Linked DNA regions of Homo sapiens. The protein of the gene in region 6 interacts with the protein of the main gene of each other region in a biochemical or structural test. Each region holds a gene or a part of one and is shown on either strand. Other genes may lie near its edges. The genes, in order: YWHAB, SUMO3, DDX41, PABPC1, ASF1A, CHAF1A and SUMO1.

Region 1 (4,012 bases), on a different chromosome or scaffold from region 6:
ACAGATGGGGAAACTAAGGCACTGAGAAGGATAATTTTCCCGAGGTCTCACACACAGCGCAAGGTAAGTGCCAGAACCAGGAATGAAACCAGGTGATCTGGTTCTGAGGAATGATATTATAGATTTCTGCATGTGGTAGAGACAGCACATGTATATGTTTTATGTGAACACCATTTAGTCCTTAATTTTTCTTTACACCAATCCTAATAAAGTAAACGTTTGAATGGGAATATTAGCTATTTTTGAAGATAGATACAGGACAATTTATTGTGGAGCATATACCCATTCTGGCCTGTAGGGATGATAATTGCTAGCATGCATCAGGAAGCAAGCTTGTGAACAATCCAGTTTTTCTAGTACTTGCTTCATACTAGGGAGAAAGTCATCAGTTACTTTGGCATAGAATTTTAGGTTCTTCATCTAATAGAATTTGATTGTGACCATTAATTTTTGTTTATCTTACGACTTCATCAGTAGATGTTCAGATTTTTCTCATTTTGTTGGCAGGGAGGAAATGAGGAAATATATCTACGTAAATAGAGAGAAACTTCTAAATTAAAACATCCTGTTGTGCTACCTGCTCTTTCGGTGTCAACAAACTGAGTTTTCCTTTAAATGCTGGTACCTTAGAGAATGAACTAAAATTTCCTTGTAGAGATACTTTTAAGTTCCTTGTTTCTACATTTTTCTAGGGAAAGATGACAATTCACTAGTTAAGGGGCAAGAAATTATGGTTACATAATAGCAACCTTTAAGCTTTAGAATCCTTTTGATCTCTATGTGAATATGATCTTAGCAGTCATCTGTATTGCATGATGGAGAAACTAACGGTTGGAGCTGGATTCTGAGGGAATTTTTCTAAGGGGAATACTTGAGGAAACAGACTAAAAGTGCTTTCTGTCTCATGATATGTGTGCTGAAGGCCAATCATCTTACTGCTTTCTCAACTAAAAGATTTTCTAATAGAGGTGTGGTTATATGTATCTGATACTTGTAATGAGATGTAAATGATCAGTGGCCTCAAGTCATTCCTAGCAGATTGTAGGTTAGTTAACTTTTTTTTTTTTTTTAAATTCTGGCCAGTTCTTTATTATGTAAGTTTTTCCCGTACTGGTTAGTTTATTTTATTGTTTTCCCTAAAAGAACCAACAGGAGGTTATTTCTGAATGGCCTTGACCAGGACAAGAAGATTGAAGGCTACAATAAAGTAGATATGAGTCCTGTCTATTATTATTATTTGCCCTCAGCTAAGAGCTTTCCTTTAAAATTTGTTTGACATTTTGGTAAGTCTTTGGCATGTTTTTATGCTGTTTTTAACTCCTTGATTTTGTTTTTATTTTTAAAGCTAGATAACATTAGCTTAATAGGCCAGTTTTAAAATTTCACTGTAACAACCTTGTATAGTTCTTTTAAAAGTTGACAATTCTCTCTTTTCCTTAAGTGAGCATTGGAGTTCATAATTGATCTTTAGGAGATAGGGTTACATAAAGGAAAGAGCATTAATTTTAAAATTAATGTTGGTTTAGATCCCAGATCTGCCATATATAGCTGTGTGACCCTGAATGAGTTAACTCTTTGCATTTATAAAACGGGACAATGTCACCTGCCTCATAGGATACTTAGGATCAAATGCGTTTCTAGGAATCCCTGAGTGCTTTGCAGGCCATAAATGATGGATGGATATTTTTGTTATTTACTAAACGAGTTAGCTGGTTTGGGTTTCTGTATAGTGAACTTTTTGTATAGCGAACTGATTGGACTTCTGAATGGAGGAGATGGACAGAAAGTAATCCAAAGGCTTGTTGAAAGTCAGTTTGAATCTATAAATACAATGATTGGTAGCTGAAAAATATTAGTCAAAATGTATAGTGTTGCTCCTGATGAGAGCTGGCTGGCTTTTTTCAAAAAGTAGTCTAAGACAATAAAAACAGTCTGTATTTTATAGGTCAGATGTGTGCTACCTTCCTCTGTCCACGTAGGAAATAATTGCTTTTTCACTTTTTAAGAATGCATCAGTTGATCAAGCAGTCACTCAGTGTGCTAGGCCTTGTACTCCACATTGGGTGTCCAAAGATACAAGTCTGGATTCCTACTTTTTTTTTTTTTTTTTTTTTTTTTTGTGAGATGGAGTCTCACTCTGTCACCCAGGCTGGAGTGCAGTGGCACGATCTTGGCTCACTGCAACCTCTGAAGCCCGGGTTCAAGCAATTCTCCTGCCTCAGCCTCCTGAGTAGCTGGGATTACAGGCGCCTGCCACTGCGCCCAGCTAATTTTTGTATTTTTAGTAGAGACAGGGTTTCGCCATCTTGGCCAGGCTGGTCTTGAACTCCTGACCTTGCGATCCACCTGCCTCGGCCTCCCAAAGTGCTGGGATTACAGGCGTGAGCCACCACGCCTGGCTGGATTCCTACTTTAAGCTCACAATCCGGTGTGGGAGCCAGCAGAGACACTTGCATTGCAGTAAACTGTGATAAGGGCCATTTTAGAAATAAGCATAGGGAAATTGTTATGTGCCTTTCTTTTAAAAGTCTTTAAAGAAAGCAGAGTACGTGTAAAATAAATGAGGTACATAGTAAGTTTCCCTTCACTGGCTGACCATTGGTTTTTTAAGTTTTGTGTGGAATGTACTGTGGTTGCCATTTATTTGAGTGCTTACTGTTTTATATCATAAACAGGTTTACTCCTTACAGGAACCCTAGTAAGTAGATTTGCCTATGTTTTTTTTTTTCTTCACAGAGTCTTGCTCTGTCGCCTAGGCTGGAGTGCAGTGGCGTGATCTCAGCTCACTGCAGCCTCTGCCTTCAGGCTGCCTCAGCCTCCCAATTAGCTGGGATTACAGGCGCCTGCCACTATACCCGGCTAATTTTTTTATATATTTAGTAGAGACGGGGTTTCACCATGTTGGCCAGGCTGGTCTTGAACTCCTGACCTCAAGTGATCACCCTCCTCGGCCTCCCAGAGTGCTGGGATTACAGGCGTGAGCCACCACGCCCAGCCCAGATTTGCCTGTATTATGGATGAGAAAACAAATTCACAGAGGTCACATAGCCTGTGGACTTGGTGTGCGGTACTGGTAAATCAGACTGATAGGCTTCATTATGTCAGTGGGCCCCAAACTGTAGAAATTATTCATAAGGTCAACCAATTGGGCTGTCTTTATGGATCAGAATTAACATAGTGTCTTTTGGATTGATTACTTAAGCCAAGAAGTCAATTTATTGTCATATCTACCATTAAGTCACATGTGTAACCTTGCGCCTGTCACTTAACACCCTCAGTAAGTTTAATCATGGCTAATTGGACATAATTAGCAATGATATGCAACAGCTGATGTGAAAGAGGGAAGGGATTTTGAAATAATAGAAATGCAGTTTCTCTCCAAATTCAGTGTTCACTGGACTTAGTGCTAATGACTTTGTATTACAGATATGCTGTGTTTTGTTTCCTAACAAAGAACCTGCAAATGTTTGAATGGAATTAAATTTATTACAGGACTCTAAATTTTATATGTAGAATGGCACACAGACAGTTTTATAGTGGGTGTTTTTTAGTGAGTAGTTTTCTCTGAGAGCCAGGAGTGTTTAACTTTTTCTGGGTAACACCCACTAACCACCTGGTCCCACTGACTTTCTCAGTCCCTTCTGCAGTAGCTTGGCATCTGATTTTTCTTCAGCAGAGAGACTCCAGAACTAAAACTTCTGCTGTACAGTGCTGTGGATGCTCTATCTGGAATGGTACATCTGTGAATGCTGTTCAGAATATGTGATCAGTTCCTTACCCCATTGAAACATTCGAGCCTAGATTTTTCAGATTTTCTTGTCAGTTTTCTTCCTTATTCTCATTTCTTTATCTGCTTTGGCCTTTGATTTTTATCTCATCTAGAAAAACATACATGCACTTTATTAATAACATCTCTTTTTAAGTCACGACCTAGCTACCTTTAAACCTATTTCCTCTAGTTCTGTCTGGTTGGCTTTCTAAGGAGAGGCATTGTAACCCTTAAACGTGTGCT
Region 2 (4,012 bases), on a different chromosome or scaffold from region 6:
GAGTCCCATCAGGGCTGTCGGCCACCCTCACCCTGCCACCGACACTATGGGCTGGAGGGAGAGCCCCCAGGCAGGGCTCCCTCTGCCTCTCGGTCCACCTGTCCACAGCCAGCCCCCTGACCCCCAGTCAAGCCCCAGAGACTCCACGAGGCCCTCCCTGCTCAGCTGCTCTCAGCAGCTTCTCCCTGGTGAACACTCCCAGAGCTGCCACTGCCTCAGCGGTGTGTAGGTTTCCTCAAGTAGGTACAAATGGATACTTGTTGCAAAGATGTTTTCAATATTTATTAAATACTGAATAGTAAATATTTAAAATCTTAAATGTTTTGCAAAAATATTTCCACATAAAACATTCCAGTGGATTCTCACAACATTGAAAGGGAGAAAAAGCAGGTATTGGTTCCATTTATGGACAGACAAAACTGAGACTCCACAAGATGAAGTGATGCTTGGTCACGGGGCCATCAGCTGACAAATGACAAGAGCTGCAACTTGAACCAAGTTTAAAAAAAAACTCTGTTTCGGCCGGGCGCGTTGGCTCATGCCTTTAATCCCAGCACTTTGGGGGGCTGAGGTGGGCAGATCACAAGGTCAGGAGATCGAGACCATCCTGGCTAACATGGTGAAACCCCGTCTCTACTAAAAATACAAAAAAATTAGCCGGGAGTGGTGGTGGGCACCTATAGTCCCAGCTACTTGGGAGGCTGAGGCAGGAGAATGGCGTGAACTCAGGAGGCAGAGCTTGCACAGTGAGCTGAGACTGCGCCACTGCATTCTAGCCTGGGCAACAAAGCGAGACTCCGTCTCAAAAAAAAAAGTCTGTTTCCAGGTCCAAAGCTCTTTCCATGACAGTATGATGCCCTGCAACGTGATAGATGAAATCTCATTCATGTCTGCATGTGCCTGAGAGAAACGAGCTGTGCAGACTGATAATCAGGGGTTATGGCACATTCTGCCCACCCACGTCACTTGTGCAAGATGCTTAAAGGGCACAAGAATCCAGCTGGCCCCTAAGCTGCACACGGGCTACAACAGCAAGCGTCCAGACAATGAGTGGGAAGGGGCCGCTGAGTGGTCCTTGCACCCCCGCTTCCCTTACAGTGAGGACGGGCCCAGCACTTGGCTCCATCTCCAAACAGCAAGAATGATGTCTGCAAAGCAGTTTTCTCATTTGAAAATTTAAATTTAAAATGTGAAAAATAAATAATCTAATAATCAATATCATTAAGGCATTCTGTATGAGCTCCCACCTACAATTCTCAAATAAGCGTATCCCAAATGGCAGTTACCCCGCACAAATCGGAAGTCGCCCTGGAACCACGCGAAGCCAGCTCCGTACCTGTGCTGGAGTGTCAGTTTCATTGATTGGCTGCCCGTCGAACCTGAATCTGATCTGCCTCATTGACAAGCCCTGGAAAGGAAAAGCAGTGGCCATTAGTCTCACTGGCAAGCCCTGGAAAGGAAAAGCAGTGGCCATTAGTCTCACTGACAAGCCCTGGAGAGGAAAAGCAGTGGCCATTAAACATTTCCAGATACGGCTTAATTCAAAAACCAAATATTTTAATCCAAGTATCAGCATTCTGATATGCAGATTTATGATCCAGCTCAGTATTAAAAACTCACCAGTGGGCCTACAATCTCTTTCACGCGGTGCCTGACACCACTGCTTTCAGAACCCACTCTTCTACCATCTTCTCTCTGATGAGCTAAAACGGCTCATTTTCAACCCAGGTTTTGTTACACCATTGCATACTGGGAACTTCTTAAAGCCAAACCAGTGGCAGTTCAGTTTCAAAGCAGATAGGTAAGTGGTCCATGGCAGAAGGAAAGCCGACTTACATTCAAACACCAGAACACAAGAGACGTCCTAGACTAACATCCAAACTCATGTACCTCTAAAATCCACCCTTTCTTTACATACGAAACCCAGGTGAGGAAGCGTAACACGTCACAGTGACGCTAGCTCAGACAGCTGTCAGCCAGGAGGTCTCTGAGGAGCAGGAGAAAAGCTGGACTAGCATTGGTGATGTGCCAGGGGAGGGGAAATGAGCCGCCAGGTGAATACTAACCTTCCAGTGGCTAGCTTTTCAATCAAAGTTTCTCAGTGCAGTGGCCGTGTGGAATGGTCAATTCAAACACTGAATCTTCTCTGTCCTGGTGCCCTGACCTGTCCTGGGTCATCCCTCCCATCTTTCCAGAAGCCGAGTAGAACTTCTACAATGCTGGCACCACTACTTCCCCCCTTTACAAAGTTCTCAGCAAGGAACAGGTTGTGTGCCAATGAGGGACAGATAAGAAGGCTGCATGAGGCCGGGGAGCAGTTACCACCATGACTTTGGCCTTGAGGAGGGCAGCAGGAAGGAGAGCACGCAGCCTTTCTGCGTCCTGAGGGAATGGAGAAATGTGGTCAGGGGCAGAAACATTTCCTCAACGAGCAGTTTTGATTTAACTGAAACAGGACAGACGGGGTTAAAACGTGCATCTCTGCTCCCTCCTGAAACCCCACTGAAATGAAGTAAATGAAAAAGGCACAAACAGGAAGGACAAAGAAAACGGGAGTGGGGATGGGCAGATATGTCAATGCTGGGCTGAGCCAGAGGCTACTGAGGCGTGGACACTGGTGGTCTGATGGACACTGGACCAGGATCCTAGGGCGGAGGGACTGGGCACGCCCCAACCTGTGAGGCAGAGCTGTGGCAGGCAGCTGATTCTGAACAGCTGCCTGGAAGTTCACATGCAGACCCCTCAGGCAGGACCCCCACAACCCTGTGCCTCCCACGGCAGCACACATGAGATGTGCTTTCTGAGAAGGTGGGTGCGGAGCTCCAGGCGCAGGGCGGAAACAGGCCCACGAAAGCGCGTGCCCTCAACACTGTGCGCCAAGTCCCCTCTCCCCTCCAGATGCGCCTCCAGGAGGCTGGCCGGAGCCTGGAGGACTCAACTCTCAAACTGTAGCATCTGGGCGCCTCCAGAACCTGCAATCCAGACAGATCACCCCATGTGGATGCACAGCCCTGGCAGCACAGCCATCCATGTACACAGCTTTTCAGCAGCTTCTCGGTGCTCCATGCTTGCACAGAAGTCAGCCTGCGTGAGAGCAGTCAGGGAAAGGCTCACTGTGCAGCAGCCTAGAGAGGAGGGGAGGAGCGCAGAGGAGAACGGACAGGAAGGAGGCAGGAGAACACTCCCAACACAGGCACACACATGCCCACACCCACACATGCCCACACCCACACACATGCACACACCCACACATGCACACCCATGCACACACCCATGCACACACCCACACATGCACACACCCACATATGCACACACGCACACACCCACATACACACACGCACACACCCACACATACACACACACGAATGCACACATGCACACACCCACATACACACACATGCACACACCCACATATACACACAGGCACACACCCACACATACACACACAGGCACACACCCACACATACACACACATGCACAAAGACACGGACATACACACCACACACACCTACACTCACGATTCAAATTCTATGGGAAGTAAAAAATACTACTACCTTCAGAAAACAATCAATTGCTACTGAGGATGGGTGCGGTGGCTCACACCTGTAATCCCAGCACTTTGGGAGACCGAGGCAGAAGGATCACTTAAGCCCAGGAATTCCAGACCAGCCTGGACCACATAAGGAGACCCCATCTCCACAAAATAAAAAAATGAGCCAGGCGTGGTGGCGTGTACCTGGAGTCCCACCTACTCGGGAGGCTGAGGTGGGAGGATCACTTGAGCCCCAGGGCTCAAGGCTGCAGTGAACCATGATCACACCACTGCGCTCCAGCTTGGGGGACAGAGTGAGACCCTGTCTCAAAAAAAATAAGTTGCTACTGAGAAAAAAAGAACACTCAAAGAACAGAAAGAAAAAAGAACTTTTGGAAATTAAAAATCATGACAGAGATGAGAATGTCCACAGGAAGTGGAAAGATAAAGTTGAAATGACCTCCCGGAAAGAAGCCCAAA
Region 3 (4,606 bases), on a different chromosome or scaffold from region 6:
CTAGAGGCAAGCAGGCACCCTGCATCTGCTCTGCTCTCTGTCCTCCTTCCTATTTCTTTGTCTGTCCCCTTCTCATCATTCCCACCACCTGCCCTATGTATAGCACACAGCTCTTTCCCAAGGCACTGCAGCCATCTTCACCACCGCTCGGCCTGGCGCGCCTTCCCCCTTCTCCTGGGTCAGCCTCTCACCCAGAAGCGCTGTCATCAAGCTCCAGAGGCTTTACTCTGGGCTCGCTTTCCTGGCCCACTGGCTTCACCTTTTCTGTGCTCACCATCTCCCTAATACTCAGAAGTCCGTGGAGGAAGGCCTCCGGGATGGGGTCTGGCCCATCTGTGAACAGAGGGCCTGGTCCAGGGCCTCTGGTGGTCTGCAGAGGACTGCACAGCACTGAAAGGACACAGGTGCCGCTGGGATCCAGCCCTACCCCAGTGCCTCAACCTCCTTGACTGACCACTGAATGACCCTGACCTTCCTGGGCCGTCCGCCTCTGTGCTTTCAGCCTGGACTGCCCCTCTTCCCAATTCAAATGTCACCTTCCCGGAAAAGCCTTCTCTGAGCTCCCACCTCCCAGATGTCCCCAGCAAGGTGGGCCATTCCATCTGCCGTGCTCCCACAGTACCTGGCCACATCCCTCTGTCCTCCCCCAACTAACCTCCCCATTAGACTGGGAGCTCCTTGAGGGTCGCACTCACAGCAGCCCTCTGTGAAGATCTGTGGAGTGGCTAAGGTAAAGGGTCCTTTAGCTTTTCCACAGACTCGCAGGTGGCAGAGGTGGGGGGCAGGGAGCGCCAGCACTCACTGTCGGATGGTCTCCATCTGCTCTTTCACGGACATGCCCCCAATGCAGAGGGCGCAGCGCAGGAGTGGTGAGCTGTCCTCCTGCAGCAGGCGGCAGTAGTACTCCAGGATGCCATGGGTCTGCCGGGCCAGCTCCCGCTGCAGGCAGAGGGACAAAGGCTGGCACCAGATGGCAGCCCCAATCTCTGGCCTGCCCTCCAGGCCAGCCTATCTTACCGAGGGGCAGATGATGAGTCCATAGGGCCCCTCGCGCTTTGAGAAGGGTAACCTCTTCTCTTGTTCCAGGCAGAACATGATGACGGGCAACGTGAACACCAGTGTCTTGCCTGAACCCGTGAAAGCGATGCCTATCATGTCACGGCCAGATAGACTGTTGGGAGAGGATGACCCGAGGGCCAATTTCAACAGAAGATGAAGGACACCTAGCCATTGCTCCTCCCTGTTCCAGCCCTCCTCAAGGACCCCAGGTCCACAGTCCACACTCACATGGTGGGGATGCCCTGGATCTGAATGGGTGTTGGGTGGTGAATGCCTTTCTTCTTCAGGCCTCTCAGGATGGCTATGAAAACCAACCGACATCGTCTTCATGACTCACAGGTACTTTCTCAGAGCCCCAAAGCCTGTAAAACTGGCACTACCCCTACAAGTTGCAGATGATGAAACTGAGGCTCAGAGAGAGAGAGAGAGAGTGGAAAAAAAAAAAGAAAAAAAGAGACTTGTCCAAGGCCCACAGGCTAGGTGCAGCCAGGATTTGTACCCAGTGTCTATGCCCAATGGCACTTTCCTCCTGAAGCTTTGTAACAGCAGAGAACAATGAACACGTACAGCTGAGGCAACAAGGAACCTAAAGAAACTCCTCCTCAAATCCCTCCAGCCCCAGTGACTGGATCCAATGCAGATGTGGCTGAGCTCAGTGGGAGCCAGGACATAACCTCACAGGCATTTGATTATAAAAGTGTGGTATCTCTCTCCAGCCCCTGACTACCTGCAGGAAACTTCATTTCCTTGAAGCTCTTGATGGGTGGTGGGATACCGTCTCCCTCCACCAGGATGTGGTATTTCTTCCGCACGCGCTCATGTCGCTCTTCAGACATGCTCAGAACATAACGGGGTGGAGTCCAGCTGTGGATGGGTAACAGGGATCAAGAGAGCCCTGGGAATAGCTGGCCTGGGAGCATCCCTGCATGTACCATCCTAAGCAAGGGCAACTGCAGACTGTACAGACATACCTGGTTTTGATGGGGTCATCATACGTAATGCCCTTAGCCATCTCCTTCACTGACATCAATGCTGAAGAGAGAGACATGGCTCAGGGCTGGCTCCTGCTTCTGAGAAGCCAGATCCCTTGAGATATAACATGCCTGGGGCTGGGAGGAGAAGACTCAGTCCACCTTCTCACTATCCTGGCTACAACCATACCTCGGCCCTCGGCAACACTCTCCAGGATCTTCTCTTCTTCCTTCAGCTGCTTCTCCTTGGCAGACTCTTTGCGCGCTGAGAAAAGAAGTGGAAGATGTCAGACAGATACCAAAACGGTGTACCAGGCTCAGCTTCTTCTTTCTCGCCCAGGCAGTGCTGCCCAGCCCACCTTCAGCCTTCTCTTTAAGGTGCTGGTGCTGATCCAGGAGGCTGACGTTGGACTGAGGGCCTAGCGGGATGTCGTCCTCATCTCCCCGGGGTTCACTACCGCTGTCCTGCTGCTCTTCCTCCGCAGCTCCCTTGCGTCTTCGCTGCAGCAGCTTCTGGAGCTGAGGTTCCACCCGGGATCCACAGATAGGATGGGCATGGAGTCCACAAGGTCAGCGTCAGGATCCTGGCTTTGGGGCGAGGATCCTGTGCCCGAGGCGCAAAGCTGCCCTACCCCTCAGATCAAGCCGTCGGTCCCTCGTTTGTCTGGGGGCCGCGCCCTGGTGTACTGAAGCTCACTCCTCAGACTGCCCTCCTCCCCACGGAGGCCGAGGCCACGCCCGCCCCCTGCGACCCCGCGGTCACGGCCCCATCCCTCCCCGGACGCGTGCCCCTCACCAGTAGCTGCCGGCGCTGCCGTAACGGCACATAGGGCACGTAGTCCTCGTCGTCCTCATCTTCCGCCTCGGAGCGGCTTCCTCCGGCAGGCACCTCGTCGGTGCGAGCCCGCTGCAAGCACACGCCAGTCAGGCACGGCCTGCTCCCCTCTTCACGCCCGCTCCCACACGCGCGGGGTCTCGCCTCTCTCCTACCTTCCGTTCGGGTTCCGACTCCTCCATTCTTTGCTGCACGCATGCGCGCCACGGCGAAACCCCGCCTCATCCTTGCGTGAGACCCAATCCGATGTGAAGAGGCGAACGACGGCGCGTAGGAACGACCTCGGAGTTCCGGATCGCGCAGAGGGACAAATTTGTTCCGGAGATACTATCGCACGGCGAGGCATGGACGCTTTCATGGGTGGTTACGCGACAGTTGCCAGGACCGAGGGCGAAACCGGCTGCAAGGCATTGTGGGACATTGGAGGACTTGGAATATGCGCTAGAAGGCTCAATCCAAGCCCATTGGAAGAGGAAGACGTACGCAGCGGAGACAGCTGATCCGGAGTCGGGGCGGCCTGCCAGGTGCCCAACCTCTCCCAGAGCATGGCGTCTTGGGCACGCCCCTGCCGGCGGACAGTGCGTCCTCTAGGGCCGGGAGCTGCGGGCCGAGTTCGCGTGGGCCCTGCGCTTTCATCCCTGCCGGGGACGCCGGGGTTGCGGGATAAACCGCTCGACACACCCTGCCTCCCTGACTGCGCCTGTGTGACACATACGTTCACTGGTGGGGCACGCATCAGATACGGATGGCAGTGGTTTTGAAGTGGGAGGCCCTGTATAAATGTAAACGGTTATTACTGTAAATGCTCTAACAGAGCTGCCTGGGGGGCGCTTCCAGGGAAGCGTGGCAATCTCAGGCCGGGAGAGGAGAGGCGTCCTGGGCCAGGGCGCTGCAGGAATACAGGTCTGGCGATGTGCAAGTACACAGATTCACCAGGCAACAGCATTGCGGCAAGGGTGGGATGGGGAAGCCAGACCTAAGGCCAGAAAAGGAGATTGCGACCAGAGCATGCCTGCTGTGACTGTCAGAGTAAGTGGTTTCAACTTTATTAGAGACTTCTAAGGAATGACTTGGTCAGCTCTGTGCTTTCTTGCCTTCAAGAGTGTGTGCTGGGCGCTGGCACTGCGCTCAAGCAGATGATAATCAAGACACATACCTGGTGTGCGAGGAGCTTATGTAGATTGAGACTAGAAATATAGACAGATAACTGGTCTTAAAGAGAAAGATCCTAAGACAAGGTACCGCTTTTCGAAGTGTCATAGTTTTCACAGTACAATGGCCTCTTAGCTGGGATGTGAAGGATACACAGGAATTCATGAAGTCTTCTTTAGTAAAGAAAGCTTAGGCTGGGCACAGTGGCTCATTCCTGTAATCCCAGCTCTCTGGGAGGCCAAGGCAGGAGGATCGCTTGAAGCCAGGAGTTCAAGACCAGCTTGGACAACATAGCAAGACCCCATCTCTATAAAAAAAATAAGCTGGTGCTTACTGCCAGTCCCATGGTGGGTCTCAACCTGGGAGGGATGGAGGAGGACATGGTTTCTGGTCCTGCTCACAACACCCAAATACATGGCAATCTCAGGCCGGGAGAGGAGAGGCGTCCTGGGCCAGGGCGCTGCAGGAATACAGGTCTGGCGATGTGCAAGTACACAGATTCACTAGGCAACAGCATTGCGGCAAGGGTGGGATGGGGAAGCCAGACCTAAGGCCAGAAAAGGAGATTGCGACCAGAGCATGCCTGCTG
Region 4 (4,012 bases), on a different chromosome or scaffold from region 6:
TATACCTGAAACATAATCATGATAAAATTCTAAGTGCTCCCAGCCTGGCCAACAGGGCAAAATCCCGTCTCTACAAAAAATTTAAAAAATTAGCTGGGCGTGGTGGCGTGTGCCTGTAGTCCCAGCTACTTGGGAGGCTGAGGCAGGAGGATCACCTGAACCCGGGAGGTGAAAGCTGCAGTAAGCCAAGACCATGCCACTGCACTCCAGACTAGAAGAAAGAGTGAGACTCTGTCTAAAAAAATAAACTCTAAGTGCTCTTGGAATATAACATACTGTTCCACAGGACAAGACATAAAATACCACGACTCTGATTCTCATACATGATTAAATGGAACGAGACCTTTAAAACTGTGGCCTGACAAAATATGAAATTGGCTGGGTGCCATGGCTCACGCCTGTACTCTCAACACTTTAGGAGGCTGAGGTGGGCAGATGACCTGAGATCAGGAGCTCAAGACAACCCTGGCCAACGTGGTCAAACCCCATCTCTACTAATAATGCGTAAGTTAGCTGGGCGTGGTGGCGGGCACCTGTAATCCCAGCTACTCCAGAGGCTGAGGCAGGGAGAAATCGCTTGAACCTGGGAGGTGGAGGTTGCAGTGAGCCGAAACTGAGCCACTGCACTCGAGCCTGGGGCAACAGAGCGAGACTCTGTCTCGAAAATAAATAAATAAATAAATAAATAAAAAATGAAGAGCTGTACCTATTCCCAAAACTTTTATAAAGGGAAATCAAACCACTGTAGACATTACTATCTTAGCACTGCTTTTAAATGCTATAAAAATGAACATCCATAACCACAAATTATGTGAAATGCAATAGTTAACCTAACATTGACATAGAAGAGCTGATTTACCCAATGTGTTATTTTTAACTCAATCCCCAACCTTAATTAAAAGAAAAAAGACTTACGATGAGGTCTGGCACCCTGAGCAGTCCAGCGAGGACTTGGTCTTAGTTGAGCAATTTGGCTAGGAGGATAGTATGCAGCACGGTTCTGAGTCTGCAGGGAAAAAAAGCACATGAGTTTATCAGTTGAAGAAAAAAGCAAATAATGCAATAAATTATATGTACTTTTTCAAAACATTTACCAGGACTTCACACTCAAGCATTTTTTCCTACTCAATCATAATTCCCCTTTCTTAATGTTTCACATTTGCGGGGCGAGGGGCACAAAAAACACTAGAAATGACCAAATACGAAAACCTTCATGGTTCTGGTTGCCTTCTAAAACCTACCTGTGGGATAGCTGCCATGAAGTAACCTGAAGGAGGTGCTGGCTGGTAGGGGTTGATTACAGGGTTGGGAACAGCTCGTACACTTGCCATTCTCTGCATATACTGGTTAGTGAGGTGAGCCTGGCGCTCTTCTTTGCGCTGAGCTAAAGCTACATACAATGGCTTTGTGGCCACAATTCTACCGTTCATTTCTGTAACTGCTTTAGTGGCTTCTTCTGGGGAGGAGAAACATACAAAACCAAACCCTTTGCTGCGACCACCCTCCATCATAACCTATTAAAAAAAAGAAAAAAAAAGTTAACGTAATGGTAGAATGAGGAGCAAAAAAAGAGCGTTACAATTTAGACAATTATAAATCACTGAATCAAATAACTAAACCCTGTTAATGCTTAATCATCTTGTATTTACCCATTGAGTTCACAATTTTTCCTTAATACCCAATTATTAAGGGCAAACTACACATATGCATTACCCTAGCCAGGTCAGAGAACTGACAGAAGTGAAGGCTGCACAGAAACTTTTAAAGATTTTAGATACTGAATTTGATTGGATTTTCAATATTGAAATTTAATTATCTAAATAAATACATCCCAGGCCTACTAAATTGACTTTTGGGCACCACTGGAAGCATTTCCCAATTAAATTTTGACTATTCTAACAATTCAAGCTGACAAGATGCTTCACTATGCCTTTGAGAAAAAAGTAGTTGAATCTTACAATACCCACATCTTAAAATAAAAGTTTTTACATTCAAGAGCAGAGGATCCATAAATATTACGGTATAAAGAACACTCAAGAGGAAGGTTCTTCTAAAATTGATTGCAAAGACCTTTTAAATGAGCAATGAAGACTTGCAAAGAACCACTCGCTAGGCCAGCAATATATATAAGCATGCTATAAAACTACATTAACAGTATGCGAGTGGCATAGGAACAAACGGTAATAAAACAGAGGCCAGAAATATACCCAAGCAATTATGGGAATTCACTGTGCTAAAGTTAACATTTTAAAGTACTGGGGAAAAAGGACTTTGGGCTACTCAATACATGACACACTGGGACAAATGAAAAAATGTAGAACTCTTAATTCACATTACATTGAAAAATCTTAAATGCCAGGTAGATTCTGAATCTGAACATAGAATGTAGAAATAGAGAGAAAACCTTTCTAAGATGACACACACACAAAGTGAGGTCTATAAAGTGGAAAATTCGAAGAAAATATTTCCAATATAAAACAAATGTTTGGCCGGGCGCGGTGGCTCACGCCTGTAATCCTAGCACTTTGGGAGGCCAAGGCGGGTGGATCACCTGAAGTCAGGAGTTCGAGACCAGCCTGGCCAACGTGGCGAAACCCCGTCTTTACTAAAAATACAAAAATTAGCCGGGCATGGTGGCAGGTGCATATAATCCCAGCTACTCGGGAAGCTGAGACAGGAAAACTGCTTGAACCCAGGGGGTGGAAGTTGCAGTGAACTGAGATCACACCACTTCACTCCATCTCAAAAAAATAAAACAAATGTTCCCTTAATCAATAAAAAGACAGACAACCAGCCAGGCACGGTGGCTCACGCCTGTAATCCCAACACTTTAGGAGGTCACCTGAGGTCAGGAGTTGGAAGACCAGCTTGGCCAACATGGTGAAACCCCATCTCTACTAAAAATACCAAAAATTAGCTGGGCGTAGTGGCACATGCCTGTAATCCCAGCTACCCAGGAGGCTGAGGCAGGAGAATCGCTTGAACCCGGGAGGCGGAGGCTGCAGTGAGCTGAGATTGCACCACCGCACTCCAGCCCAGGCGAGAGTGAGACTCGTCTTTAAAAAAGACAAAAAAAAAACACCTCATAAGTTTAAGAATTTGTGTTGCACTGCATTAAAAGCATTCTTGGGCCGCATGTGGCCTGCAAGCAGCGGGTTGGACAAGCTTGGCTTAAGCCCAGGAAAGGCTGAGGCTGCAGTGAGCTGTGATTGTGGCATGCCCCTGCACTCCAACCTGGGCAACATAATGAGATCCTGTCTCAAGAAACAGAAAAACATGCATGCTTCATACATTCAAAATATGCTGATGCACAACACTCAATTTAAACAATATCCAGGGAACACACTGAAGACAAAAACATTCAGGAATAAATTCTATCGTACTCCAATACTCTTACATAAAAAGCATAATCTGAAACACAAGACAACCATGGCACTTCCATCTTACTTGTATTCAACCACCTTTCCCCTAACATTTCCTCACTCTCACAGAAGCTTCCTCGGACTTGCCAGGAAAAGCTGACTAGAAAGATCAGCCACAGCGTCATTCCAGTTCAGTTGAGTTGTAATTTTTTTCTATGCACTCTTCCCCAACCCCAGCAAAATTATGTATGCACAAAACCTTGCATATAGGGGGACTCTTGGCCCACGGATGCTAGACAAAAACATCTAGAAGAGAACTTCTTAAATCAAGATTTCAGAATTTGTACTAGAATACTACTGCTTTGTTTCTTAATCTCTGATTTCAAATAAAAGAAAATATGATCTCTATTCTTACTGCTAGGGGGCAGGGGAGGGAACTGGGGCTTGACTACCCAGAATGAATTGTAGAAATGAATAAACAGATCAGAACTATAGTAACAATTATAAGTCCCTAATAAATTGCTTGCTTTAGCAAAATGACTAGTTGTTGGAATAGTGCATATCATGTGAGGATATCAGCCTTCCTTAGCAAAGAGTTCAGTGCTTGCCATTTTTAAGTTAACCATTAGGCTATGACAACCAGTTCAAAT
Region 5 (4,012 bases), on a different chromosome or scaffold from region 6:
TGAGCCATGAGGGAGGTTTTACTAATAATTTTTCTACTTTGGAGCTCTGTGATTATTTGGATCTCTGCAGCGTAGTATAGGGCTGCCCTTCCAAAGTGTGTTGAGAAGGGCCTTAAAAGATGATATACAAAAAAAGGGGGATTCCATAGCCAAATAAATTTGGGAAGTGCTGGATTAATGTTACTGGTGTTCTTTACTGAAGGATATCTCAGAAAACTTACTGTGCCAGCATGCTTTATGAATCCTCAAGACAAGGTTTACAGCATTTCCCAAGTGTTTGGCTATGTTATCTTGTTTGTGAGGCACTGTCCAGGAACTAGTGTTTCACAAAAGAGTATTTTGAGAAACTCTGATCAAAGTGTGAACTCTGGTAGGAACTTTATAAGGAGCATTTCACTGCCTTTCTGGATTGCTATGAGAAGCCAATTTTAAAGCCAGTAAGTGGCTAAGTGGACATTAAAAGGGTCTTTGATGTCATCTGGTAATGTAATTACTGAATATGAAATAATGCTTTGGTTTTTTAACCCTAGACTTGGAATGGAAAATTATCTATGTGGGCTCTGCAGAAAGTGAAGAATACGATCAAGTTTTAGACTCTGTTTTAGTGGGTCCTGTTCCCGCAGGAAGGCATATGTTTGTATTTCAGGTAAGATTAATCTTGGTAAATGTGTATGCCAAATATGTTTCGAAGTAGACTATATTATCTATTATCTTATAACCCTTATCCCTTTCCTTTTGGGTTAAAGAACTGCTTCTGCTGCATTCACTTTAAATCTGTTTCCATCATGTTTTAGGCAGTCTCTGTGTCACAGAGGAACTCTTACTTCCTGGTTTTATATGCTGAGAGATGTTAATGTGACGTTTACTTTAGAGAGATGAACAACCTACAGTAAATTTTATACTGTATCATGGCACACAGGGTGGTGAATTTGGGGCTCTTCCTGTGAATAGCACCTCAGTATCAGACTTCCAAGGTGGCTGTCTAGCAACCCAAAACATGGATTCAAAATATCTAAAACTAACTGGCATTGTTAGTAATATGCATCTTCAGTTTATGGTTTCAGCCACTGGAACTGATGGTGATGTAACAAAAACAACTTTATTTCAGCATAATCAGTAGTTGAGCTAGGTTAACAGATACGTTTAGTGGATAGAGATGTGTGGTCTTGGGTCATTGGAATGACATTCCAGAGTTTACTAAAGCATCTTATAATCTACATTATCTTATAAGAGGACTACTTTTGCAAATTTACTACCCCACTAGGTATTTGTGAAGAGAATTTCTAGTAATAAAAATTTTGTTCTTAGATACCACTGAGAGTATTTGGATCTATACCAAGGCTTCAGACATTGTCTTCTATATTCAAAAGTGTTATTTCTTTTAATCCATGTTAAATTGCTATATGGAACCATTCAGTTATTCCTCAATTATGCATGCTTATTTATAAGGGAGATGTTTGTAATAGACCAAAGAGTAACTAGCCATAGGTTTTTTAAAACTACTATTAATTTCTGTTACAAGTATTTCAACCCAGCAATGTCCCATCAGTTAAGTGGAACTCACTGAAAAGACTTAATCCAGAAAGAAAATCTAACTCTTCCTATGCCTGACCTCTGTTTTCTCACTTCACAGATGGGACCAATTTAAATGAATACCATTGGTCAAATAATCCCATCAGAAACTGGCAAAGAATCACTTAGACACATGCCATCTCTAGAGCTGCTACCTTTCCCTCCCCTGTCCTAAATACAGAATTTAGAATCTTGGTTTCCTAGCCTTAGTACTTTTGATTAAAAAGCAACAAATAATTTACTGTATCTAAAGAAATAGCTAAGAAAAGCTCAAATATACTAATCAAATATATGAATTAAAAGTGCTGTTAATCAAAGTTGTGTGAGTGCATAACCATGTAAAAGACATGGGTAACAGAATGCCCTGTTCTGTAGAAGGAAGCACTGCAGTTATAGATATAGGTCAAATCCCGACACCTCTGTATTAGCCATGTGTGGCTTTACCTCTCTAACCTCCTCCCTTAGTCATTCCAGTCTTCTATAAAATGTGGATAATATTCTATCTCATTAAAATGTTATGGGGAATAAAACAGTATAATCAGTCACTCATAAAGAGTGCCCTATTCCTAAAATTAGAACTACATTTTTATTCTCTTAACTTCTTGAAATTGTTATATAAAAAAGCAGGACTTGCTCTGACCCACAGGCCTAAGGAACCCATACTTTACTGATAATTCATGATACAGTAAAAGAAACCTGGGTTGACAGGTACTGATAATACTTTTTTTTTTTTTTTTTTGGCTACTATAAGAACTTACAAATAAATGCCTTGTTATTGAAACAAACCCTTGAAAATCTTTTGTGTTTGTTATTAAGCATACTCCTAAGCTTTTGGCTGAAAGTGCTGTAGCAAAAAAAATGTATTCAAAAGTATTTCCTGCTGGTGATCTTCACGTAGTTTTACCTTGGTGTCAGTGTACATGTTGCCAAAAAGAACAGAGGAGGTACAATGTATATTCAGCCTAAAGGTTTTACAGAATTCACCATTATCAACAGAAAGAGACTAAATTACAGCTTTTGTTTTGTATTTTAAAACTACTATAGTAATCTCTTGGTCTGCCATGATTTTGCCTCTCTAAATAGTTAAACATGTCTTTCTTCTGAGTGAGTCAAAGGCTAGCAGGAAGATGTCCAGACATCTGCCTAGTATTGCCAGCTAGAGTCAAAACAAAGATCTCTGCTCATTACTTCTGCATCCTAAATTATTTGAAAGGCCTGTAAGCTTCTCTACTTAAATTTGCTCAAACTGAATCTTTTTCAAATTGTAAAATGCTTTTTAAAAGATGTTTTATATTTACAACAGATTTTAAAACAGAAACATGCCTAGAACCAATTTACTGAAGGGAACCAATTTACTGAAGGGAAGGGGAAGAGTTCTCATAGCAGTACTGAACTATTATATATTTCCCATCTCCACCCACTTCAGGTATATTAGAATCCGTTTGGGTACACTGAAAGTAATCTAACCCCTCTGTGCAGGGGTGTGTAGAATCTCTAAGACAAACAGCATATTCTCCAGGACAAGGCTGGCTGTCCCCTATCCTGGTGTCTTGCCAAGAGATCATAAACCCCTTCAGGGCAGGAACTGATTTACAAATGAATTCCAAAATACTAAGTGCTCAGAGCTGAGCCACACGAGATTATAAAGATGAACTGGATGGGACTCCTGCCCTGGATAAAGCATAGCATCTAGAAGAGAAGACTGAAAAATAAACATGTTTAGATCACAGGGCATACGTTCTTAGATAATTTGTGACAAGAAATATCAGCACATAAAAAAGGAATCTATTGATTCTACCTTCTGAGTTAGAAAGGGCGTCACTGAGAATACACTCGATGTAAGCTCCAAAAAAGATTAAAAGATGAATTTTTCAGGATGTGAGCGAAGGACCTTTCAGGCCAAGGGAACAGTATGTTAGAAGCACAGGGGGTGAAGTATTTCTTTTTTAAATTTGTTTTTGTAGAGATGGGGTTTCGCCATGTGGCCCAGGATAATCTCAAATTCCTGGGCTCAAGTGATCCACCCACCTTAGCCTCCCAAAGTGCTAGGATTACAGGCGTGAGCCACCGTGCTCAGAGCGTGAAAAGATTATCACCACGTTTTAAAGAACCTGTGTGATTCATATCTCTAGAACAATGGTGGAGTTAAAGGAGGTATGAATGGAGATATTGGCTGGAGACAAACTGAGAAGGGCCTTGTCAATGAAGTTAAAGAACTGAGATTTTATCCCTTAGAAAAGGGAATACTCTTCTGAGGGTTTTAATAATCTGAGGTTTTAAAACCAAAGAGAAAGAACATATCTGTGTTAATGCTGGTAGCAGTGCAAATGATAGGCTAGAGCTGGGGAGATCAGTTAGAAAATTCTAAGCAATATTCCAGATAGGAGATGACATGAATTCAGCCTCCAGAAATGAAAAAAATGTTGAGACTGACTAGATG
Region 6 (4,012 bases):
ACTCCATCTTAAAGAAACAAAAAAATGTAAAGCTGTGAACATCTGCTTTGCATGGCCTCCCGACAGACACGGTGAGCATCGGCAGAAAGCCCACTAGGTCACAGCAGCTGGGCAGTCAGGAGGAAATGGTGTGCAGCAGGCCCGCAGGAGGCAAGAGGGGGCTGTGGGGCCACGGTGCAGATGCGGACGGGATCCCATCCCCAGCAGCCACGTGGGCGAGTGTCACCAGATGAGATTTTTCGAGAGAAGCTGGAAGTCTGGATGTTGAGGTGCGTTCAGGTTTCAGACCACACAGCAGGTCAAACACCAGCTGTCAGTGAGTGAACACAGCTGGGCTGCATCCTTAGCCCCTCACTGTGGGACAGAGACTCAAACACAAGCCGTCTGTGAGTGAAGACAGCTGGGGCACATCCTTACCCCCTCACTGTGGGACAGGGACTCCCCAGGCTCCTCTTCTTCCCACTCCTCATCACTGTCCACCTCATAGTCCAGGAGCTTCTGAGAAAAGAAACACATGGGACTCACAACTGTCTTTGGGGCTGGAGGAAAGGGGCACAGTGAGGAGGTACGGGGACGGAGGCACTCTGGGGCTAGCTCACCGTGTCCTGGGCCCAGGGGTCTCGCGCGCGGATGAGTGCCGTCTTCTTATTCCAGGTACCCCAGTAGGCAGGCCGGTGGTTCTCACAGAACTGCAGGAGCTTCATCCTGCCAAACTTCCTCCTCTCGGGAACACCGTCGCCCTTCCCACGCTCCACGATGACGACATCACTGAGAAGGAAAACCCCAGGCTCAGGATCACGCTGCCTTACAGACCTGCTCACAAACCTCCCAGGAACCTCCCTGTGAAGCTGGCCTAACAATTCTAGAAAGATGGGCATTTGTTAAAAAGCAGCACTGCCTGTCCCCAAAGAAAGGTCAGGAACATGGACTGAAGGGACAGATGGAGGAGGGTGCAGCCTGCAGGGTGAGAGGGAGGACAGCTGCCCAGGTGCAGCCCCAGAGCATTTTTAGCAAGGGAGGTTCTGTGGAATGAGATTTGCAAGAGCGAGGTGTTGGGGGGTATCCTTCACTGGAGACCAGCAGGGAAATAAGATTCCTCCACGAGGAGCTGGGAAGACAGGGAGAGGAAGACTTCAGGAGCTTACAGGAAGGCCAGGTGGAGAGAGGCCTGAGCCAGCACCGAAGCCCAGGGCCCGAGGGCACTAGGAAGCAAGCAACAGAAGGACCCAGAGCTCCCACCCCGGGGACCCCAGGGTTCAGGATGCTGGCCTCCAGCATCACTAGTGGGTGAAGGCCGACCTCCTCAGGCTCTGACCTGTTAAAAATATCTGCATTCCGGGTGGAAACGTGCGTGGGTCCGGACCTCAGGGGCTGCCGGCCTTTGAGGTCTTTCAAGAAGGAGAACTCGCCGCTCTGCTGCTGGAGGAGCTGGTCCAGCTGACTGCAGAGGTCTGGATGGAAAGCGGTCCGACGCCGAGGGGCCAGGACCATGTGCTCTTTAATTTCAAAGGGGGCAAACTTCCCACAGGAGCCGGCCAGGGTCTGAAATCAAGAAGAGACCCGATGGGGTCTTCGAGCAATGGGAGAAAGGAGGCACCATGGACGCACACAGCAGGGTGCTGGTGGGATTCATCCAGGCTAAGGCCAAGGCACAGACTCAAAAGCCCAGGCACTGTGTGGGTCCACAGAGCCGAGTTTCCAGAGCTACAGGGCAGAGGGCAGATTGGCAGTCTCAAGGGCCGGCGGTGGGGGGACAGACTACAAGGGAGCTGTTTTGAGTGATGGAAATAGGGTTTATCTTCATTATGGTTAGCTGGCCCTGTCATTTGTCAACACAAATGTCCTGAAAAGAGTTTATTTTATTGGATGTAAATTATATCTCAACAAACCTCACTTAAAAAAAAAAAAAAAAAAGGCCGGGGGCAGTGGCTCATGCCTGTAATCCCACCACTTTGGGAGGCTGAGGAGGGCGGATCACCTGAGGTCAGGAGTTCGAGACCAGCCTGCCCAACATGGTGAAACCCCATCTCTACTAAAAACAAAAATTAGGCCAGGGGCAGTGGCTCATGCCTGTAATCCCACCATTTTGGGAGGCGGAGGAAGGCGGATCACCTGAGGTCAGGAGTTCGAGACCAGCCTGCCCAACATGGTGAAACCCCATCTCTACTAAAAACAAAAATTAGGCCAGGGGCAGTGGCTCATGCCTGTAATCCCACCACTTTGGGAGGCTGAGGAGGGCGGATCACCTGAGGTCAGGAGTTCGAGACCAGCCTGGCCAAGATGGTGAAACCCCGTCTCTACTAAAAATACAAAAATTAGGCCAGGCGCGGTGGCTCACGCCTGTAATTGTAGCGCTTTGGGAGGCCGAGGCGGGTGGATTGTCTGAGCTCAGGAGTTCGAGACCAGCCTGGGCAACACAGTGAAACCCGGTCTCTACTAAAATACAAAAAATTAGCCGGGCACGGTGGCATGCACCTGTAGTCCCAGCTACTTGGGAGCCTGAGGCAGGAGAATTGCTTGAACCTGGGAGGCAGAGGTTGCAGTGAGCTGAGATCGTGCCACTGCACTCCAGCCTGGGGGATAGAGCAAGACTCCATCTCAAAAACAAAACAAAACAAAACAAAAATTAGCTTGGCATGGTGGTGGGCACCTGTAGTCCCAGCTACTCAGGAGGCTGAGGCGGGAGAATCGTTTGGATCTGGGAGGCAGAGGTTGCAGTGAGCCCAGATCACGCCACTGTACTCTAGCCTGGGCCTGAGGCAGGAGAATTGCTTGAACCTGGGAGGCAGAGGTTGCAGTGAGCCGAGATCGTGCCACTGCACCACTCCAACCTGGGGGATAGAGCAAGACTCCATCTCAAAAACAAAACAAAACAAAACAAAACAAAAATTAGCTTGGCATGGTGGTGGGCACCTGTAGTCCCAGCTACTCAGGAGGCTGAGGCAGGAGAATCGTTTGGATCTGGGAGGCAGAGGTTGCAGTGAGCCCAGATCACGCCACTGTACTCTAGCCTGGGCAACAGAGCAAGACTCCTTCTCAAAAAAAAAAAAAAAAAAAAAAAAAAAAAAAGACAGGGTCTTTTTTTGAAAGATCACAACTCCTCTTTTTTTTTTCTGAGATGGAGTCTCGCTTCATTGCGCAGCCTGGAGTACAGTGGTGCAATCTCGGCTCACTGCAACCTCTGCCTCCTGGGTTGGGCGATTCTCCTGCCTCAGCCTCATGAGCAGCTGGGATTACAGACGCCTACCACCACGCCCGGCTAATTTTTGTATTTTTAGTATTTTTAGTAGAGACACCTTGTTGGCCAGGCTGGTCTCAAGCTCCTGACCTCAGATGATTCACCCGCCTTGGCCTCCCCAAATGCTGAGATTACAGGCATAAGCCACCGCACCTGGCCAAAAGGAGAAATTTCAGTATAATGAAAGACACTGTAGCTGGGCGTGGTGGCTCACACCTGTAATCCCAGCACTTTGGGAGGCCGAGGTAGGCGGATCACCTGAGGTCAGTAGTTCAAGACAAGCCTGACCAACATGGAAAAACCCCGTCTCTACTAAAAATACAAAATTAGCTGGGCGTGGCAGCACATGCCTGTAATCTCAGCTACTCGGGAGGCTGAGGCAAGAGAATCATTTGAACGCAGGAGGCAGAGGTTGTGGTGAGCTGAGATCATGCCACTGCACTCCAGCCTGGGCAATGAGCGAAACTTTGTCTCAAAACAAACAAACAAAAAACAACAAAGGCCGGGCACGGTGGCTCACACCTGTAATCCCAGCCCTTTGGGAGGCCGAGGCGGGCGGATCACAAGGTCAGGAGATCGAGACCATCCTGGCCAACACGGTGCAAACCCCGTCTCTACTAAAAATACAAAAAATTAGCGGGGCATGGTGGCGGGCGCTTGTAGTCCCAGCTACTCGGGAGGCTGAGGCAGGAGAATGGTGTGAACCCAGGAGGTGGAGCTTGCAGTGAGCCGAGATGGCACCACTGCACTCCAGCCTCAGCAACAGAGTGAAAC
Region 7 (4,012 bases), on a different chromosome or scaffold from region 6:
GTTACAGAGGACTCAGGGCTTGGTTGCTGTTTATTGCCCTTCACTGCATGGAATAAGCTCTTTGCCTTCTAGATACTTAGAGGAAGAAGCAGCTGTTTACTATGAATATAAATTCATAGAAATGTGGAGAGACTATATTTGAAGACAGTCTTCTAGTTTTCAGGTGAAATACTGTCTCACTAAAGAAGGTTAATTTTGCCTGCTGCTGTAATAGTCAGTAGTCAGCAAATGTTAAAAGCACTGCAGAATGAAAAACAGGCAAGGATTCATACTAATGAAATCAGTTCTGTTATCTAAGCATTTCCCTAGACTCTAGCCTGTATTTTAAAGTTAAAAGCTGCTTCTAGTTTAATATGTTCTTTTAATTGTTGAATGTTAAAGAATTTTGTATTTTAAGTTACTGGCATGAGATACACAGGTAATGGTTATGGTTATTCTTATCAAATACGGATTAACTGCTTGAAATTATTACGGATAATAAGGTATATATCTAAATAAGTGGGTAATTTGGTGGCCAAACTAAGGTGTAGCACATAGAGAAAAAAAGCTACTTTTTTACCACATTATTCATGAAATTTTCCAAGGTACCCCCTTTACTAAAAATGATTTGCTTATTCTTGAGATACTTCATGGTGAAGTTGTTTTAACTAATTTATTCTGTTAACCTCATTTTCATTTCAGTATCTCTTTATTGGAAATTGTTTTGTAACTGTTTTTGTGATCTTTTTTTTTTTTTTTTTGAAGAGATGAGGTCTTGCTATGTTGTCCAGGCTGGCCTCCAACTCCTGGGCTCTCAAGCAGTCCTAGTGCCACAGCCTCTCAAGTATCTTGTCCTCCTATTTTTGTCTCCTCTTTTAAACTTAAGCATTATGCTTCGGATAGTCTAAAATAATTGATTATATAAAACTGATTCGTTTTGACTCCAGAGTACATTAGGCTAATACTTTCTTATTTGATTTTCCTTTCTAAATAGCCTTGCTTGGCTGGGCACTGTGGCTCACGCCTGTAATCCCAGCACTTTGGGAGGCCGAGGTGGGCAGATCACCTGAGGTCGGGAGTTTGAGACCAGCCTGACCAACATGGAGAAACCCTGTCTCTACTAAAAATACAAAATTAGCCGGGTATGGTGGTGCATGCCTGTAGTCCCAGCTACTCGGGAGTCTGAGGCAGGAGAATTGCTTGAACCTGGGAGGCAGAGGTTGCGGTGAGCTGAGATCGAGCCATTGCACTCCAGCCTGGGCAACAAGAGCGAAACTGTCTCAAAAAAATAATAAATAATAGCCTTGCTTATGCTAATATGATTAATTTACATTTCTTAGTACAGTTTTGTAGTTAAAGTAAACTCCTCATGATAGGCTGTGAGAAGATAATCTTGGATTCAGAAGTTTGTCTAAAAATTCATGGAGGATGAACTTCCTTTGTGCTGGTAAGAGCTGGCTGTAGGGCAGTTGTTTCCAAGTTGTTCCTCTGGCCAGTAGTATCGGTACCACCTGGTAATTTGTTAGAAAGAGATTCTTATCCCTACTACAAATGTGCTGAATAAGAAACTGGGTCTTGGGCCCAGCAGTTTGTTTAACACGTCCTTCAGCTGATTTTGATGCGTGGTAAAGTTTTAGACCATTACTATGGGGTATTATAATAAAAGAGACCCCTTTCTTGATTTCTAGTGAATGGCGTTTGGGACAGTAATTGACTTAGGATTTTTTTTTCTTAATTGACTGGCATGGAAAAGAAATGCTGTTTGTATTCTCAGGTGCAGATTTTGCATCCTGAATGAAAGTAATGGATACTCATAAGTGAGTAATTAAAATAGCATGTAGGAACTTTTATCTTGAAATTTAATTTTCTTTCAGGAGGCAAAACCTTCAACTGAGGACTTGGGGGATAAGAAGGAAGGTGAATATATTAAACTCAAAGTCATTGGACAGGTGAGTTTCATTGTTTTTCTCTTTTGAGTCCCCTTCAATGTGAATACTTTTTCACAGGAAAAAAAATTATTTAAGGCAAATTATTTTAAAATGACTATGTATGCATTTTAATTTACTGTGTATGCATCTGTTAGAGGTAGAAGAGGCCGATACTGTTTTTTAAATTACTCTGCCAGGCAGTTTTAGATCATCTTAATTTTTCCAAATAGGAATGTTTTCTTGGTTAGTGTGCTTCAGGGGCAAATACAGTGAATACTATTAAGTGTTAAGGCTAGGGCCAACCTTAAGTAAAAGGTTTATCAGCCCTTTTCCTGACCCTTTTCTGGCCCCCTATTTCCCTAGACTCTAGTCTGTATCTTTTTTTTTTTTGAGATGGAGTCTTGTTCTGTCACCCAGGCTGGAGTGCAGTGGTGCGATCTCGGCTCACTGCAAGCTCCGCCTGCCGGGTTCACGCCATTCTCCTGCCTCAGCCTCCCAAGTAGCTGGGACTACAGGCGCCCGCCACCATGCCCGGCTAATTTTTTTTGTATTTTTAGTAGAGACGGGGTTTCACTGTGTTAGCCAGGGTGGTCTTGATCTCCTGGCCTCGTGATCCGCCAGCCTCGGCCTCCCAAAGTGCTGGGATTACAGGCGTGAGCCACCGCGCCTGGCTCTAGTCTGTATCTTATTGATTCTGAAATGTTAATTAAGGTTAGCTAACAACCGTTGGAGGAATGAATCTACATAGTTACGTGGGTTTTCTAAAGGACAAAAGACAGAGAATTGGTGGAAGGGTGGACTCGCCCAGGATGGAGTGCAGTGGTATTTCTATTGAAGTGTGACAGTACCATTTCCCTATATTCTCCCAAACATGGGATATTAACAGTCTTTAAATTTTGTTCAAATATGCTAGGTAAAACATTTTTGTTTATTTTTCATTTACCTGATTATTAATAAGGTATAATTTTTTTGGTCTGTTACATTTATATTCTTCTGTTAATTGTGTTCATACCCTTTTCCCATTTTTCTGTGATTATCTTATTTTGAAGACTTTTATTTTTTATTTTCAAAATTTTTTAAATTTAAATTTTATTTTGAAATGGAGTTGTGCTCTTGTTGGCAGGCTGGAGTGCAATGGCGTGATCTTGGCTCACTGCACCCTTCACTCCTGGGTTCAGGTGATTCTCCTGCCTCAGCCTCCCGAGTAGCTGGGACTACAGGTGCCTGCCACGAAGCCTGACTAATTTTTTTAAAAAATATTTTTAGTAGAGACGGGGTTTCCCCATGTTGGCCAGGCTGGTCTCGAACTCCTGACCTCAGGTGATCCCCACCCGTCTCGGCCTCCCAGAGTTCTGGGATTACAGGTGTGAGCCACCATGCCGGCTTTATTTTGAAAACTTTTAAAAGATAAAATTCACATACTATAAAATTCACTATTTTAAAGTATATAATTCAGGGGCTTTAGTATTATTCACAAGTGTGTGCAGCCATCACCACTACTAATTCCAGAACATTTGCATTACCCCAAAAAGACACCCTGTACCCATTAGCAGTCATTCCCCATCCTATTTCCTCCAGCCAGTGACAACCATGATTCTACTTTCTGTCTCTATAGGTTTGCCTTTTGTGGACATTACATATAAATGGAATCATAAGATATATGGCTTTTTTTTTTTTTTTTTTTTTTTGAGGCAAGGGTCTCGCTGTGTCACCCAGGCTGGAGTGCAGTGGCCTGATCTCAACTCACTGCGACCTCAACCTCCTGGGTTCAAGCGACCCTCCTGCCATAGCCTCCTGAGTAGCTGGGATTTCAGGTGTGCACCACCATGCCCAGCTAATTTTTGTATTTTTAGTAGAGATGGGGTTTCGCCATGTTGGCCAGGCTGGTCTCAAACTCCTGACCTCAGATGATCCGCCTACCTCGGCCTCCCACAGTGTTGGGATTACAGGCATGAGCCACCATGCCTAGCTTTGATATGTGACTTTTTATTCTGGTTTGTTTCTTCTTTTCTGCCTTGCTTCCCTGTTCCTCTTCCCCTCCCTCCCCTCCCCCCCTCCCCATCCCCGTCTCCCTCTCCAGGGTTCTCGCTATGTTGCTCAGGCTG

Evidence for each region.
Region 1: the proteins of CHAF1A (region 6) and YWHAB form a complex in vitro, tested with the Homo sapiens proteins (one study listed by BioGRID).
Region 2: the proteins of CHAF1A (region 6) and SUMO3 form a complex in vitro, tested with the Homo sapiens proteins (one study listed by BioGRID).
Region 3: the proteins of CHAF1A (region 6) and DDX41 form a complex in vitro, tested with the Homo sapiens proteins (one study listed by BioGRID).
Region 4: the proteins of CHAF1A (region 6) and PABPC1 form a complex in vitro, tested with the Homo sapiens proteins (one study listed by BioGRID).
Region 5: the proteins of CHAF1A (region 6) and ASF1A form a complex in vitro, tested with the Homo sapiens proteins (one study listed by BioGRID).
Region 7: the proteins of CHAF1A (region 6) and SUMO1 form a complex in vitro, tested with the Homo sapiens proteins (one study listed by BioGRID).

What each region holds. Positions count from the first base shown.
Region 1 is NC_000020.11:44,888,408-44,892,419, forward strand, and holds part of YWHAB (14-3-3 protein beta/alpha), read left to right. Parts: intron 1-4,012. UniProt on the Homo sapiens protein: Adapter protein implicated in the regulation of a large spectrum of both general and specialized signaling pathways. Binds to a large number of partners, usually by recognition of a phosphoserine or phosphothreonine motif.
Region 2 is NC_000021.9:44,807,711-44,811,722, forward strand, and holds part of SUMO3 (small ubiquitin-related modifier 3 isoform 1 precursor), read right to left. Parts: intron 1,409-4,012; coding exon 1,337-1,408; intron 1-1,336. UniProt on the Homo sapiens protein: Ubiquitin-like protein which can be covalently attached to target lysines either as a monomer or as a lysine-linked polymer. Does not seem to be involved in protein degradation and may function as an antagonist of ubiquitin in the degradation process.
Region 3 is NC_000005.10:177,513,899-177,518,504, forward strand, and holds the start of DDX41 (probable ATP-dependent RNA helicase DDX41), read right to left. Parts: upstream 3,064-4,606; 5' UTR 3,048-3,063; coding exon 3,021-3,047; intron 2,938-3,020; coding exon 2,827-2,937; exon of another isoform or gene 2,550-2,826; coding exon 2,390-2,549; intron 2,296-2,389; coding exon 2,221-2,295; intron 2,092-2,220; coding exon 2,031-2,091; intron 1,924-2,030; coding exon 1,787-1,923; intron 1,361-1,786; coding exon 1,288-1,360; intron 1,172-1,287; coding exon 1,018-1,171; intron 940-1,017; coding exon 803-939; intron 1-802. UniProt on the Homo sapiens protein: Multifunctional protein that participates in many aspects of cellular RNA metabolism. Plays pivotal roles in innate immune sensing and hematopoietic homeostasis.
Region 4 is NC_000008.11:100,708,218-100,712,229, forward strand, and holds part of PABPC1 (polyadenylate-binding protein 1), read right to left. Parts: intron 1,515-4,012; coding exon 1,242-1,514; intron 1,007-1,241; coding exon 916-1,006; intron 1-915. UniProt on the Homo sapiens protein: Binds the poly(A) tail of mRNA, including that of its own transcript, and regulates processes of mRNA metabolism such as pre-mRNA splicing and mRNA stability.
Region 5 is NC_000006.12:118,900,236-118,904,247, forward strand, and holds part of ASF1A (histone chaperone ASF1A), read left to right. Parts: intron 1-530; coding exon 531-646; intron 647-4,012. UniProt on the Homo sapiens protein: Histone chaperone that facilitates histone deposition and histone exchange and removal during nucleosome assembly and disassembly.
Region 6 is NC_000019.10:4,426,194-4,430,205, reverse strand, and holds part of CHAF1A (chromatin assembly factor 1 subunit A), read right to left. Parts: intron 1,543-4,012; coding exon 1,316-1,542; intron 769-1,315; coding exon 600-768; intron 499-599; coding exon 418-498; intron 1-417. UniProt on the Homo sapiens protein: Acts as a component of the histone chaperone complex chromatin assembly factor 1 (CAF-1), which assembles histone octamers onto DNA during replication and repair.
Region 7 is NC_000002.12:202,217,948-202,221,959, reverse strand, and holds part of SUMO1 (small ubiquitin-related modifier 1 isoform a precursor), read left to right. Parts: intron 1-1,853; coding exon 1,854-1,928; intron 1,929-4,012. UniProt on the Homo sapiens protein: Ubiquitin-like protein that can be covalently attached to proteins as a monomer or a lysine-linked polymer.